Regions from separate parts of the Homo sapiens genome. Here all the other regions are linked to region 2. The links come from fine-mapping of genetic effects on gene expression. A gene starts in region 2. Each other region holds a variant in brackets. All regions are shown on one strand. Distances are between the middles of the regions. Region 1 overlaps TIAM2 (TIAM Rac1 associated GEF 2). Region 2 holds the start of TIAM2 (TIAM Rac1 associated GEF 2). Region 3 overlaps TIAM2 (TIAM Rac1 associated GEF 2).

Evidence for each region. PIP is the estimated chance that this variant, and not a neighbour inherited with it, causes the effect. A credible set is the group of variants that fine-mapping cannot tell apart.
Region 1: its variant is fine-mapped to the expression of TIAM2 in whole blood (TOPMed, PIP above 0.99).
Region 3: its variant is the best candidate, but not a certain one, in a credible set for the expression of TIAM2 in lymphoblastoid cells (GEUVADIS, PIP 0.80).

Annotation. Positions count from the first base shown.
Region 1 is chr6:155,223,937-155,228,158 of GRCh38, forward strand. All of the region lies in intron 15 of TIAM2 (TIAM Rac1 associated GEF 2), which reads left to right. Among named protein-coding and RNA genes, the nearest start is that of CLDN20, 38 kb to the right of the region's middle. RefSeq lists an enhancer at 1-1,017. The variant G/C (reference allele first, on the strand shown) is at 2,006.
Region 2 is chr6:154,993,093-154,997,314 of GRCh38, forward strand. It overlaps TIAM2 (TIAM Rac1 associated GEF 2), which reads left to right and starts at 2,223. Exons shown (of 27, transcript NM_012454.4): 1 at 2,223-2,400. RefSeq lists enhancers at 2,117-2,724, 2,725-3,330 and silencers at 2,171-2,310, 2,401-2,480.
Region 3 is chr6:155,182,249-155,186,470 of GRCh38, forward strand. TIAM2 (TIAM Rac1 associated GEF 2) reads left to right here. Exons shown (of 27, transcript NM_012454.4): 13 at 1-70; 14 at 989-1,252. Among named protein-coding and RNA genes, the nearest start is that of CLDN20, 80 kb to the right of the region's middle. RefSeq lists enhancers at 3,111-3,918, 3,919-4,222. The variant G/C (reference allele first, on the strand shown) is at 1,939.

The DNA of each region.
Region 1 (4,222 bases), 230 kb after region 2:
TGGCTTGCCACTGTGTGGGTGCCTGGAATCTCATCCGATCTTTAATATTTACCCAGGGGGGTGGGTGTAGTGTCGCATTATTCATTCACTCATTAAATCCCCTTCACCGAGGCCTGCTCAGATGCTTGCCATTGTTCAAAGTTCTGAAATCGTCACCTGGCTGCCTTCTGTCAATATTCTTGCGTAGAGATTGTAGTCCAATGAAAACCTTGTACTGAGTGAAAGAAGATGTGTTTGAGTTTCAAGGCATTTTCTGTGCCTTTCATGACTCATAGCAGATTCTCACCTTGTGATAAAGTTCCGGCTCCACAGTGGTGGCTGCTTTTGCTTTTGCAAAAGTAAGTTGTGAGAAATTGTTCTGAGTCATTTTGCAATTTCCTCTATAGACTCAGCTAAGAGTAGATGTGTGTGTCATGAGTAGATGTGTCTGGAGTTGAGGGAGGAGGGGTCATGGAAAAACTCTGCCTGGAAGTGCTTCATCCAGGTACACATGATGGTATTTTCACCATCTCAAACACTAGCTTCTAACTGCTGAAGGTTAAGATGGGATCATTCGTTTTGTAAATCCGTCTCCTGCTGTCTTGATAATAACATGAAGAAAAGGGCAAGAAAAACATGGATGTGTCATTAGTATGGAAGGAAGGAGGAGAATGGAGGTTTGTTTTAAAGGCACCCCCAATTCTCTTTCCCTCTTTCATCCTTTCGTTGGTTCTTGCCCCTTCCACACCCCGACTGTGTTTGTTCAGCCTCCAGCGCATGCTGCCGCCTCTGCTATTCACCTGCCTTTGCGCTCTCTCATTCTTTGCTGCCACCTGAGTCCTCTGGTGTTTTCAGAAAACAGCTGGCAGAGGAGGAGGCTCTGAGATGTGCAGTTGCTTAGAAGGTTCTGGCCTGGCATCTGCACAGCGGGGATTTCATCACCAACTGCTCAGAAACCACAAATGCTGCATGCCTGGAGGAGTCCTGCCATCTTCCTACCTTGCATGCCACTCTCAGCTGGTTTTGGGATTTTCTATTTATTTGTTTGTTTGTTTGTTTGAGATGGGTCTCGCTCTGTCACCCAAGCTGGAGTGAAATGGTGCGATCTTGGCTGACTGCAACCTTTGCCTTCCAGGTTCAAGCAGTTCTCCCACCTCAGCCTCGCATGTAGCTGGGATTACAGGCATGCACAACTGCACACAGCTAATTTTTGTATTTTTGGTAGAGATGGGGTTTTGACATGTTGTCCAGGCTTGTCTCGAACTCCTGACTTCAGATGATCCACCCACCTCGGCCTCCCAAAGTGCTGGGATTACAGGCATGAGCCAATGCACTCAGCTGGGATTTTTAAGAGTTTATTCCCTTCTTGGTTCATTCAGGCATAGATAAAGGGCAGTCTGAGGGCCCGGGTGACACACCCATCAGGACAGGTTGGTGCTCTGCCTTCCTCTCATTTGAGCACCGAGGTCTTGAATTTGGGGCTTATACAGATGAGTTACCAAGATGGGGAAAGGTGGACCATCAAGCAGTAATACAACGTGAGGCTTACAGGTAACTTCTAAGTGTGGGGCTTTAAAGAAAGTCTCTGTTCACATTCTGTCACCCTCACTCTGTCTCTTCCATCTTTTTCTTGCCTGAGTGTCCTGGTTCTGCTGCCTTCTCTAGATCCCCAGCTCTTCTCACCACCAGGGATACCTGGCTTTGGTTCCCATGTATTTATTGATTTCTATTTTTAAGAAGTTTGATCAAAACTGTCAAGTTATTTATTGAAAATGATAGTTGTCTTAGTTTAAATCTTATTCCATTTCTGTTAGAAGTCAGTGTAGATTATAGAGTGGTAAAGTCTCAGATAAATACTTATATAAATAAAGATAGGTATTGTTCCATATAAGATTATCATTATTTTGAGAACCTGTTGATGAGGGTGCCAGATGTGACTGTTGCATTACTCAAATCCAGCAAAAAACACTGAACAAAAACCATAATTAAAGGGGCACACAGGGTATCTGTGCTCACTTTAAGGCAA[G/C]TAGCCCTTGGCAGTACCCCTGCTTAATTAAGGTTGCCAGGATATTAACATGTAATTGATGTTTTATATACTTATAACTTTCCTCCCAGAAGCTACAATTTTTTTGAAACCAGATTCCAAGCATTGTTTTAAGCCAATATTAGAAGAGAAAGTGTAGGGCTTTCTAAGCATGAAGAGGATGTGATTTCAGACGAAATCATAGCACCTGGACCCTGTCTCCCTGCCCCCATCCCATTCTTCATAAGCGATGAAAAGCATCTTTGATCCATGAAACCTGAAAAAGCAGCCATCAGTAGAAGTAAGTGTGACGGCTGAAGGTGTCATAAGATACTAATGTACCAGTGGGGAATGGGATGCAAGGCTGCTCAGCCTCAGTAGCCCCCTTGGCTGGCTGAGCATCTTTGTGGGCTCCGCTTTTAAGTGGAAACAAAAGATTGCTGATGGTAGGTTGGGTGTGGTGGCTCACGCCTGTAATCCCAGTACTTTGGGAGGCCGAGGCAGGTGGATCACTTGAGGTCAGGAGTTTGAGACCAGCCTGACCAACATGGTGAAACCCCATCTCTACTAAAAAAAATTAGCTGGGTATGGTGGTGCACGCCTGTAATCCCAGCTACTCAGGAGCCTGAGGCAGGAGAATCACTTGAACCCAGGAGGCGGAGGTTGCAGTGAGCAGAGATCGTGCCACTGCACTCCAGCCTGAGCAACAAGAGTGAAACTGCATCTCGGGTGGGGGCGGGGGGCAGGGAAGAAAAAAAGATTGCAGATGGTGAAATTTAAATGCTTAAAAAAATCTTTAAGAACTCATAATTTGCCTGCAACAAATTCAGGTGGTGACATAGTCCCTTTCATTCCCCCAAGTCAGAGCCCGTGCCCCTGTGTGTCTGTCCCCATCAGTGAAACTGGGGCTTGGTTTCTTCTGGAGAAGAATAATCCAGGGCAAGTCAAGCTGTTTGTTTTGCGCCCCTGTCTCTGTTGCTGAGTTGCTGTCACCTTGAGTTGGCTCTGACTGTCCCGTGGCGAAGGCCATCCCAAACAGCACATTTGCAGTATGTGCTCGGAGAGTGGGATACATAAGAAACAGGAGAGTTAACTAGAAGGATTTTCCCTCCTGCTCTACTAAGTTGGAAAGGAAAGTAGATGTTTGTCTCTTAATTTGCTGTTGCACAAAGTGAAAAGATACTTGGACCAGAATTGCTGGAGCTTTCCATGCACTCACAGTGGGCTTTGGAAAAATCATTCACTCCCTTGAATCCTTATTTGTTAAGAAAGTGGGATTCCATTTCCACAACTGTTTCATGGCTGTGAGGTGAAATAAAGACTAGGCATGCGGAATGGCTTTGTAAACTGCAGGGGTGCTGAGTCAGTCTGCGGAGACTTAGCCCATGGCGAATACAATGTGTTTTAAATACATCACTTCATTTAAACCCGTTTTCCCCACAACCCTATTGAACAGATATTACCAGCCCCATTTAGCATGAGAAAACTCAAATTCAGAGATGTCAACTAGCAGGCCAGTGTGTCCTAGGCAGTGACTGTACCACGGATCGCGCCCAGCCCTGCCAGCTTCTAAAGCACTTCTTCCCATGACACCACACTGCCTCGTAAGGAGAATATGGCACTGCGTGTAGAAGAAAGGGGAGAAAACTGTATTTAAGTATCAGACTCATGGCATATGGGTGTATTTACTCTTCAATTGATTTAAAGGTAGAGCGACTGTATTTGTGAAATTGCAAGGTACGATGTTAGAAATCTGGACACGACTTTTTGGTTCTTTAGCTTAATTTACAAAGTTGGTTACACCCCCGTCGACAAGAGGAATCTGTGAGGATATAGAGATCCAAGGCTTATGTTCCAAAAGCAGGTAGACTGTGACAGCTGGAGAGAGCCAGCAGAGGATGCAGCCTCCTCAGCAGTCTAGAAGCACATCTAAGATGCCCAAGGAGTGTCGGCAAGGAACTGGAATGGGCGCAACCGAATTATTTTCTGAGCATCTTAGAACTATTATCAGAGCAGAGTGCTTGGTCTGTACCTGGGAGCCAGGTGCTGCTCTATTTTTTGTTTCGTTTTCTAGGTTAAGGCAGCCGGGAACCCACATGGATTACAACTAGAAAGAAAATCAATTTCTAGGGAGCCAGAGAAAGGGAGGAAGGGCTTAGTGAAGGGAGAGTCTGGGCTCAGGTAGTTGGGCAGAGCTGTCCTAAGCAAAGCTGGGTGGAC
Region 2 (4,222 bases):
TTGGCTGTCAAGGGATGGTGTCTCACAAGAGGAGAGGAATTAGAGCCATCTGGGTTCTATATATTTTTTCAAGTTTGTACAACAAACATGTTACTTTTATAATCAGAAAAATATTTTAAAATAGTGCGAAAAATGCAATAAAAGAAGCAAGAAAAATAAACACATACCAGCACCCCCCCACCCCCCGTCTCAGTGTGGTAGGTGTGAGTCAGAAGTAAGAAGTAAATAAGTGTTGGCCGGGCGCCATGGCTCACACCCTAATCCCAACACTTTGGGAGGCTGTGGGCAGATCACTAGAGGTCAGGGGTTCGAGACCAGCCTGGCCAACATGGTGAAACTCCGTGTCTACTAACAGTACAGAAATTATCTGGGTGTGGCGGTGCATGCCTGTAGTCCCAGCTACTTGGGAGGCTGAGGCAGGATCACTTGAACCCGGGAGGTGGAGGTTGAGCGAGCTGAGATCGTGCCGCTGCACTCCAGCCTGGGCGACAGAGACAGACTCCATCTCAAAACAAAGCAAGCACCGCCCCCCCCCACCCCACCCACAAAACAGTAAATAAATGTCAAGGAAGAAAAGGTCTTTGGAGGTGATGCTTGAATTGAGCATGGAAGAGTGAGTGGAGTGGGAAGATATTTTCCTAGGCAGAGCCAAGTGCGCAAAGATGCAGACAAGACCAGGGGAGGGCCTACAGAGTGGGAGGGGCCAGTCACTACTAGTTCGGTGTGTACAGAGCCTGTGGTGGTTGAGGGTGGAGAGCAGGTCTGTCCGATCCCCGCAAAGCCTGGAGGCTTCCTTTTGATACTGGGTGTGTTGTGGGAAAGCTGATTTCATTTGTCTTTTTGACTCACAGTTCTCCACGGATCTCCCGTTACGGAGACTGGGTCGTATTCACGCACTGCACCTAACTGACCAGGGCCCTGGCTGCTGTGCTCTGAACTCCAGCACTGGGATTGTGCCCAACGCCACCCTTCCCACCTGGCCGCTCCCAGCCAAGGACTGGTGGCGGCATGGACACGAAGGCAGGCAGGTTCCGGGGAGAATCGGGATCCCCATGATGCGTAATTTTGGCTGAAGGGCTCACGGATGATCTTGCTGAGCTTTTCTTAGACTGCAGGGAGGCCGGGATGGGTGCTTCCCTCCCTCCTTCACTTGGGCTCTGATTTGCAGAAGGTCCGGCCCTCTCCAGCTCTCACGGCTCCCTCCTCATTTAGTTCCACGGCCATTTCCCCCAAGAAAACCCTCCGCATCTAGTCCTGAGTGGGCGCTGCTTCTCGTAGGACCCACCCTAACACATGGCCTGCATCTACCTTCCCTTCCCTCTCCTCTCCAGGGTGCAGCCTTTTTCAAGGCGAGGAGAGTGATTCCAGGCAGCTTTCATTCCTGGGTCTCCTTAGCTCCCTCGCCCTTCCCAGCATCTGGGCCCACTGGGCCACTCAGGCTTTTCTAATAAAAATCGCAGCTTTGGCCCAGTGCGGTGGCTCACGCCTGTAAGCCCAGCACTTTGGGAGGCCGAGGCGGGTGGATCACCTGAGGTCGGGAGTTCGAGACCAGCCTGACTAACATGATGAAACCCCCATCTCTACTAAAAATACAAAATTAGCCGGGCGTGGTGGCGCGTGCCTGTAGTCCCAGCTACTCGGGAGGCTGAGGCAGGAGAATCGCTTCAACCCAGGAGGCGGAGGTTGCGGTGAGCCGAGATCACGCCATTGCACTCCAGCCTGGGCAACAAGAGCGAAACTCAGTCTGAAAAAATAATAATAAAAATCGCAGCTTCTCCACCTGGAAAGTCCCAATTCGACTGGGTCTTGGAGTGCCGACTCGATTGCCATCTCCGCTGCGAAGCCATCTCCTCTCAGAAGGGGAAGGAGATGGAAAGTCTCTGCGGCCGCTGACCTCAGTTTTGCGTGCCTTTCCTCGGTGGGACCCGGGAAGAGCCGTCTTTAAATTCCTTGGGGAAGGGACGGGGTCGCACTGGCGCATCGCATCCCCGGTAGCGGGCAGAGCCCCCAGCTCACAGTGAGCGCGTGCTCGATGTTTCTTGAATTGTTTTATTTGTGTTGTTCCAAAGAAAGCGCGAGGGACATGGTCCGGGACCAGCCGGGAGCTGGCGCGGGGGTCCTGGGCCTGACGCTGGGCGGGGCTGGGGCGTGTCCGGGGCGGGGCGGGGCGGGAGGTGCGGTCGCGGCTCGGGCCTGGCAGGCGCTGCGCGCGGGGCTGGGGCAGCGGTAACCGTAACTGTGGCCGCGGCCGCCGCAGGCGCACAGCGCGCGTCCAAGTGGAGAACAAAGTGACCCCCAGAACTTCTCCAACTCCTCCCGGCGTTCCCGCGAGGGCCACGCGCCGAGGGTAGCGGAGGGCGGCGCGCGACCGGCCCCACCGAGCCCGGCGCGCGACCCGAGGTAAGGGGCGCCCGGGTGAGGGCGCAGGAGGGCGACGACCCGCGCTGGTTGGCGGCGGCTCCAGGTCCCCTGCGGGCGGGGCGGCGCGCGGCCGGCGGTCCCCTCCCTTCCCCTTTGTTGGCCGCCCCTCTCTGCCCCCGCTTTCCTGGGAGTCCCGCGGAAGGTCGCGGCTGCGGGGCGCGGCCTGGCACCCTCTCCCCGGAGGGCGGCAGCGTCCGGGCACAGCCTGGCACGGGGGACGAAGCACTTTCCAGAAGGCTCTGAAACTAGGTCCCCTGGTCCCCTCGCGCTGCGCGACACGCCAGGACCCACTTTCAGCCCCGGTCCCATCCCGGATGGGAGGAGGCGGCGCCCCGGCCTCCTGATACCGAGGTTCTCGCCCAAAGCCGAGCCGTGGGTGCCCGGAGGGGAGCGCCCGCTGCGCCCACGCCCGCCCGGCGACCTCGGAGCCTCAGAAAGGCGCTGCGGCGAAGCAGGATCCCAGGCGGTCGGCTCAGCGAGTGTAGACCGTGCGGTCCCTGCTCAGCCCCTCCGGCCTTTCCGAGCGCGGGAGCCATCCCGGACGGGCGCGGCTCCTGGGGGGGCTGAGGTGCCAAGTTTCTGTGAAAGCCGACACGTTGTGCCCCTAATGGATCCTATTTACCAAAAACAGTTCAGAAAGAAAAGAGTCCATTCTTCCAGCCATTCGTTGCTGACAGCCGCTGGAAAGGTCTGGGAGTAACATTGCACGAGGTATTTCTATCTTTAAGGAGCGGCGAAATTTAATATTGATGAGCTTGCATGCCGTTTTTTTAAAATAGACAAATAGGTTAACTTTATTTAAAGAGGGAGAAGGCTGCTTGATTCCAAAGATAATTTCATTCAGGGGGAGGTTTTCCTGCTTTTCTCTGCAGAATTCAGGCAAGAGGCCACTTGGTGACACTCCTCAGCCTCCTTGGGTAATGGTGAGACCTTTATTTACTATGCGATGAAGGGCCTGGGATTCTCTTCTCATGGTTATTCACACATTCTACCTTTTGCTCCCCAAATGATGCTGACCACCTTATTTTAACAGACAACACCGGCTATCTCCAGTTCTCTTTCCAATAGATTTAAGCCAGAGTGTCTCTAAAATCTTACCAAGTTTCGTACAGGTGCGGATCATATGCTATAAATGTTTCAGTCCTAGGCTCTGGATAAAAAAGTGTCCATGGTTTTATAATTTGGGCTTAACCAGTAGAACTTGTGTGTATACACTCTTAGAAGTATTTCCTGATGTGCTTAAGATTGTTATGTTTTAAAAATATAGTATCATGATTGGTGCAGTTTTGTAAGCAAACTTTTGTTCCACCGGATTTTACCTGCTCACTTTATAGGAAAATAAAACTTGTTGCTTTAGGGTGTCAGAGGTTTTTGTGTTGGGTAAATGTAAAAGAACATGGCAAGGTATAACTGAAGAAGAGTTTATTATTTACTGTGGCAAAACACGCCCCTAATGACCTCAGAATCAGCTTTCAACACCTTCACATACCATACTAAGATGCTTCATAATGTGGCACCTGCCTGCCTTTCCAGTTCCATCTACTGACTTTCCCCAGGCCTCCTGGCTCTCCCCCGCTTGCACACTGCCTGCTCTAGACACACCAAGCTACTCAGAAGTTGTTATTTCCAGACCATTGTTTGGAATGAATGAAATTCTGCTTACACTGTTCTTACTCCTCTTGCCCATCTGTCAATTACCCACGCATTCTTAATGTGTCAGTCAAATACCTTCTCTAGGAAGCTTTTCTTCCTTATCCGTAGGCGAAGTTAAGCTCCTCCTCCTCCAGTAGTCAGTGCTTCT
Region 3 (4,222 bases), 190 kb after region 2:
GATGAGCGTCAGCATCTCAGCCGGATATTTATAAGCGACGTTCTTCCCGATGGCCTGGCGTATGGGGAAGGTCCGTGTGGCACACCGTGCCCCTGTTGCCTCTTAATTTGAAACTGTGGGATACAGTCTGGCTAGTGAATGTTTCTTCTTACAGTTTTGTCAGAAAAAGGTTGCTCCTGGAATTTTAAAGAAAGTAAACGTAAGAGTTTAATTGGAAATGCGACCAAACACAGCGGCTCGCTCGCATAAACCCAGCTGCTCAGGAGGCTGAGGTGGGAGGATGGGAGGATTGCTTGAGCCCAGGAGCCCAAGACCAGCCTGGGAGACAGAGTGAGACTCCTGCCTCCGTAAAAAAGGACAGAGAGAGAGAAAAGAAAGAAAATGCATATGCCTATATATAGAGAGAGCATGTGTGTGTGTGTGTTTAAAAGAGTAAGTGTATACATATATATAGACAGAGGGAAGGAGGAAGAGAGTGTGAGACAGACAGGCGGACACGGATGGAACAAAGTTAACATGGGAACACTAGAAAAAACAACGAATGAGTGGTTCTCAGGAGGCTGAGGCACAAGAATCTCTTGAACCGGGGAGACAGAGGTTGCAGTGAGCTGAGATCTTTCAAACTGTTTCTTCGAATAGTAGCTGTGAGAGAGCTAACATTTGTTTTGCTCTTAGTGGCATCTAAATACTATACATTTTGGCCCTTTAATTCTTTTTTGTTTTTCTTATTTAAAAGACGAAGTCTTGCTATATAGCCCCAGGCTGGCCTCAAACTCCTGGGCTCAAGTGATCTTCCTGTCTCTGCCTCCTGATTAGCTGGGACTACAGGCACCTGCCACTGTGCCTGGCTGGCACTTTCTTTGAAGAAAGCAACAAACAAAACAGTCCCTACGAGTACATGGTTTGAGTTTGCAGCCTTCTTTCATCTGAAAATATTTCTCACAGTAATCCCTCTCTCTTTTTTCTGTTTCTCCTTCCTTTTTCTCAGGGCTGAGAAAGGGCAATGAGATCATGACCTTAAATGGGGAAGCTGTGTCTGATCTTGACCTTAAGCAGATGGAGGCCCTGTTTTCTGAGAAGAGCGTCGGACTCACTCTGATTGCCCGGCCTCCGGACACAAAAGCAACCCTGTGTACATCCTGGTCAGACAGTGACCTGTTCTCCAGGGACCAGAAGAGTCTGCTGCCCCCTCCTAACCAGTCCCAACTGCTGGAGGAATTCCTGGATAACTTTAAAAAGAATACAGCCAATGGTAAGGCTTTGTTCTGTCTTCCTTCTTAACTGCTGGTATCAACAGCCAATATTTTTAGGCTGTAATTTTGCTTGCAAACTCAGATTATTTAAGCTGTTCAAAGAATGTTTTCTAATTTATTAGAAGAACACAGATGCCAACTGGAGTAGATTTTATCAAAATTTCATGCGTTTTAGTAATTATAGCGCTTTCATTAAAATAGAAAATAATTATTTTTGCACAAAATAACATTTAAAAAAAAATCATGGACTCTTTAAAAATCACCCATAATGTTTAGTCTTGTAGTTCCTTTGTGACTGAAGGCAGATGAAAGCCTGCATAAATGCCAAAGTGGAAAGATTTTTCTTATTTAGTTGAATCTAAGGCACAACCATTTTGCAGTCTTCTGTTGGGCTCTTAGAACAGCCCGTGCATTTCAGTTCAGTTATATCTTTTGTTAAGTACTACTTTATTAATAAACAGCAAACTTTCTTTTTTAAAATTTATTTTTATTTTTATTTTTTTTTGAGACAGAGTCTCACTCTGTCACCCAGGCTGGAGTGCAGTGGCACAATCTCAGCTCACTGCAAGCTCTGTCTCCCGGGTTCAAGAGATTCTCGTGCCTCAGCCTCCTGAGTAGCTGAGACTACAAACGTGTACCACCATGCCTCGCTAATTTTTGCATTTTTAGTAGAGGTGGGGTTTCA[G/C]CATGTTGCCCAGACTGGTCTCAAACTCCTGACCTCAGGTGATCTACCCGCCTCGGTCTCCCAGAGTGCTGGGATTACAGGCATGAGCCACCGTGCCTGGCCAGTAAACAGCAAACTTTTAATGTAGGTCATGAATTTTAAAACTTTGTGAAGGCCTAAAAATGAAAAACTGTGTGCCAGTTTAGTTTTCTCACGGTAAGACTTCCATATGAGGAAATCATTTGAAGGTCTGAAGTTTTGAGTTGATCATTCATGTGTATTTCATGTACTGCAGTCAAGTAAATTAGGGGCTCGGCTAGTACTGAAAACCAGTAGTTTCGCTTTATACCTCTGGAGAGCCCGGGTCAAGCTCCACAGGAGACCAAGTGTGGGGTCTTTTTCCTGGGAGAACACAGAGCAATTTTTATACTTAATTACGATAATAATGGATTTCCAATTGAAATCTCTGCATGATTACCAAAAATGAATGAAAAAACACCAAAGAGAAGTTGTTAGGATTGATTTAATTATAAAGGAAGTTTATTAGGTCATTTTTGGAATTAAAAAATCAGATGGTAAGATTTGCGATTCAATAAGGTATCTCGTGCTTTCTCCTCCTCTCTTGGGGCTTTCCTCTAATTTAAAATGCCATTAAATGGACTATTGGCATATAAAAGTGAATGTCATAAAACAAAAATTATGATGGAACTTATTAATTACTTGGGTATATTAGGGCCATCATTCAGCTACCCTGGGCTGCTGTTATGGGCCTGAGTATTCCATATAATACATACATGTGTCCATTTGTTGGATTCATTACTCTTGAGGGATACATTCACTACCTGTGTTATGTCTCTATGTATTTTATCATAATAAGAAATTACCACAGAGGCTATAATACTTTTGGTACTTGCGGGAATGAATTCCTGTAGAAAGTAGAGAAAGGGGCAAATTTACCTTTTTTTTTTTTTTTTTTTTTTTGAGACAGTCTTGCTCTGTCACCCAGGCTGGAGTGCAGTGGCGCAATCTTGGCTTAGTGCAACCTCCACCTCCCGGTTTCTAGTGATTCCCTTGCCTCAGCCTCTGAAGTAGCTGGGACTACAGGAACATGCCACCACGCCTGGCTAATTTCTGCGTTTTTAATAGAGATGGGGTTTCACCATGTTGGCCAGGCTGGTCTTGAACTCCTGACCTCAAGCGATCCACCCTCCTCAGCCTCCCAAAGTGCTGGGATTACAGGTGTAAGCAACCGCGCCCGGCTGTTTTTCTTTTCTTTTTAAATTTTTTTTTAAATAGTAAGGATCAAGCAGGTGAGTTAAGCCACTTTTATTTATTTATTTATTTATTTATTTATTTATTTATTTATTTATTTATTGGCAAGGAAACAGAATAAAGAGGCAGTCCTGGATCTGTTAAATAGCTATTCTATTACTCATCTTAGGCAGCCATTCGGACTGTCTAATCCTTTACAACCAATGTCTGTGTGGACAGAGAGCTTAGTTAGCCAGGCAGGCACGGTGCTTGTCCACATCACGTCCTCCTGATGGAATCTTGCAGGTTCTTCCACTACCAGCCTAGTGGGAGCCACTAACCCTTTCCTGGTGTCCTGGCAAGACTGTGCTCTGTGGGTGTGACAGTCTCCCAGGCAGCGCCCCGCCCACCTCTGCCCTGAGCTTTACCATTCCTCCCCTCTCCTAAGCTCCAGGTGGCTGTTCCATAGTGATGTCGCCTGTGCTGGAAAAAACAGCCCCAGCAGACTCCTTCCCCAGACACCACAAACAGAGGCTTTTCTTTTTCTTTTCGAGGTAGTTGCGTTGCTTGTGAAGGAAGTTACATGCCTTTGGGCAAACATCTCAGAAGGAAGTCTTCCATTTTGAAGGTTGAGGGGAAAAGAAAATAAGGGTAGGTGGGTGGATTAAAAGATAAAAGTGAAAAAAGACCAGGTCTCTCATTCATATGCAACATCTGAATGACAAGAGAAGCCTGTGTTTGTGGAAACTCTGAGAGATGGCAGGGTGACAAGCATACAGGTTTTGAGTCAGACGTGGGTTCAGGTCCTGGGCTGCCCTATACTGGTTTTTTGACTCACCCAGGGAGTTCTGGGCTTTGGTGGATGCTACCCCAGCCTCTTTACCCTGGTGGAAACGGTTCTGAGGTGCAGTCTACACAGCTCTGCAGATGGGCCCTGGAATGAGCCCCAGCTGTACACAGCAGCCTCGCTTTCACACCTCCCATGGGCTTCCTGCCCTTCTTGCCTCACTGTCCCTACCCCTTCCTTTGGGAATCTCGGGGTCACCTTCCAAAT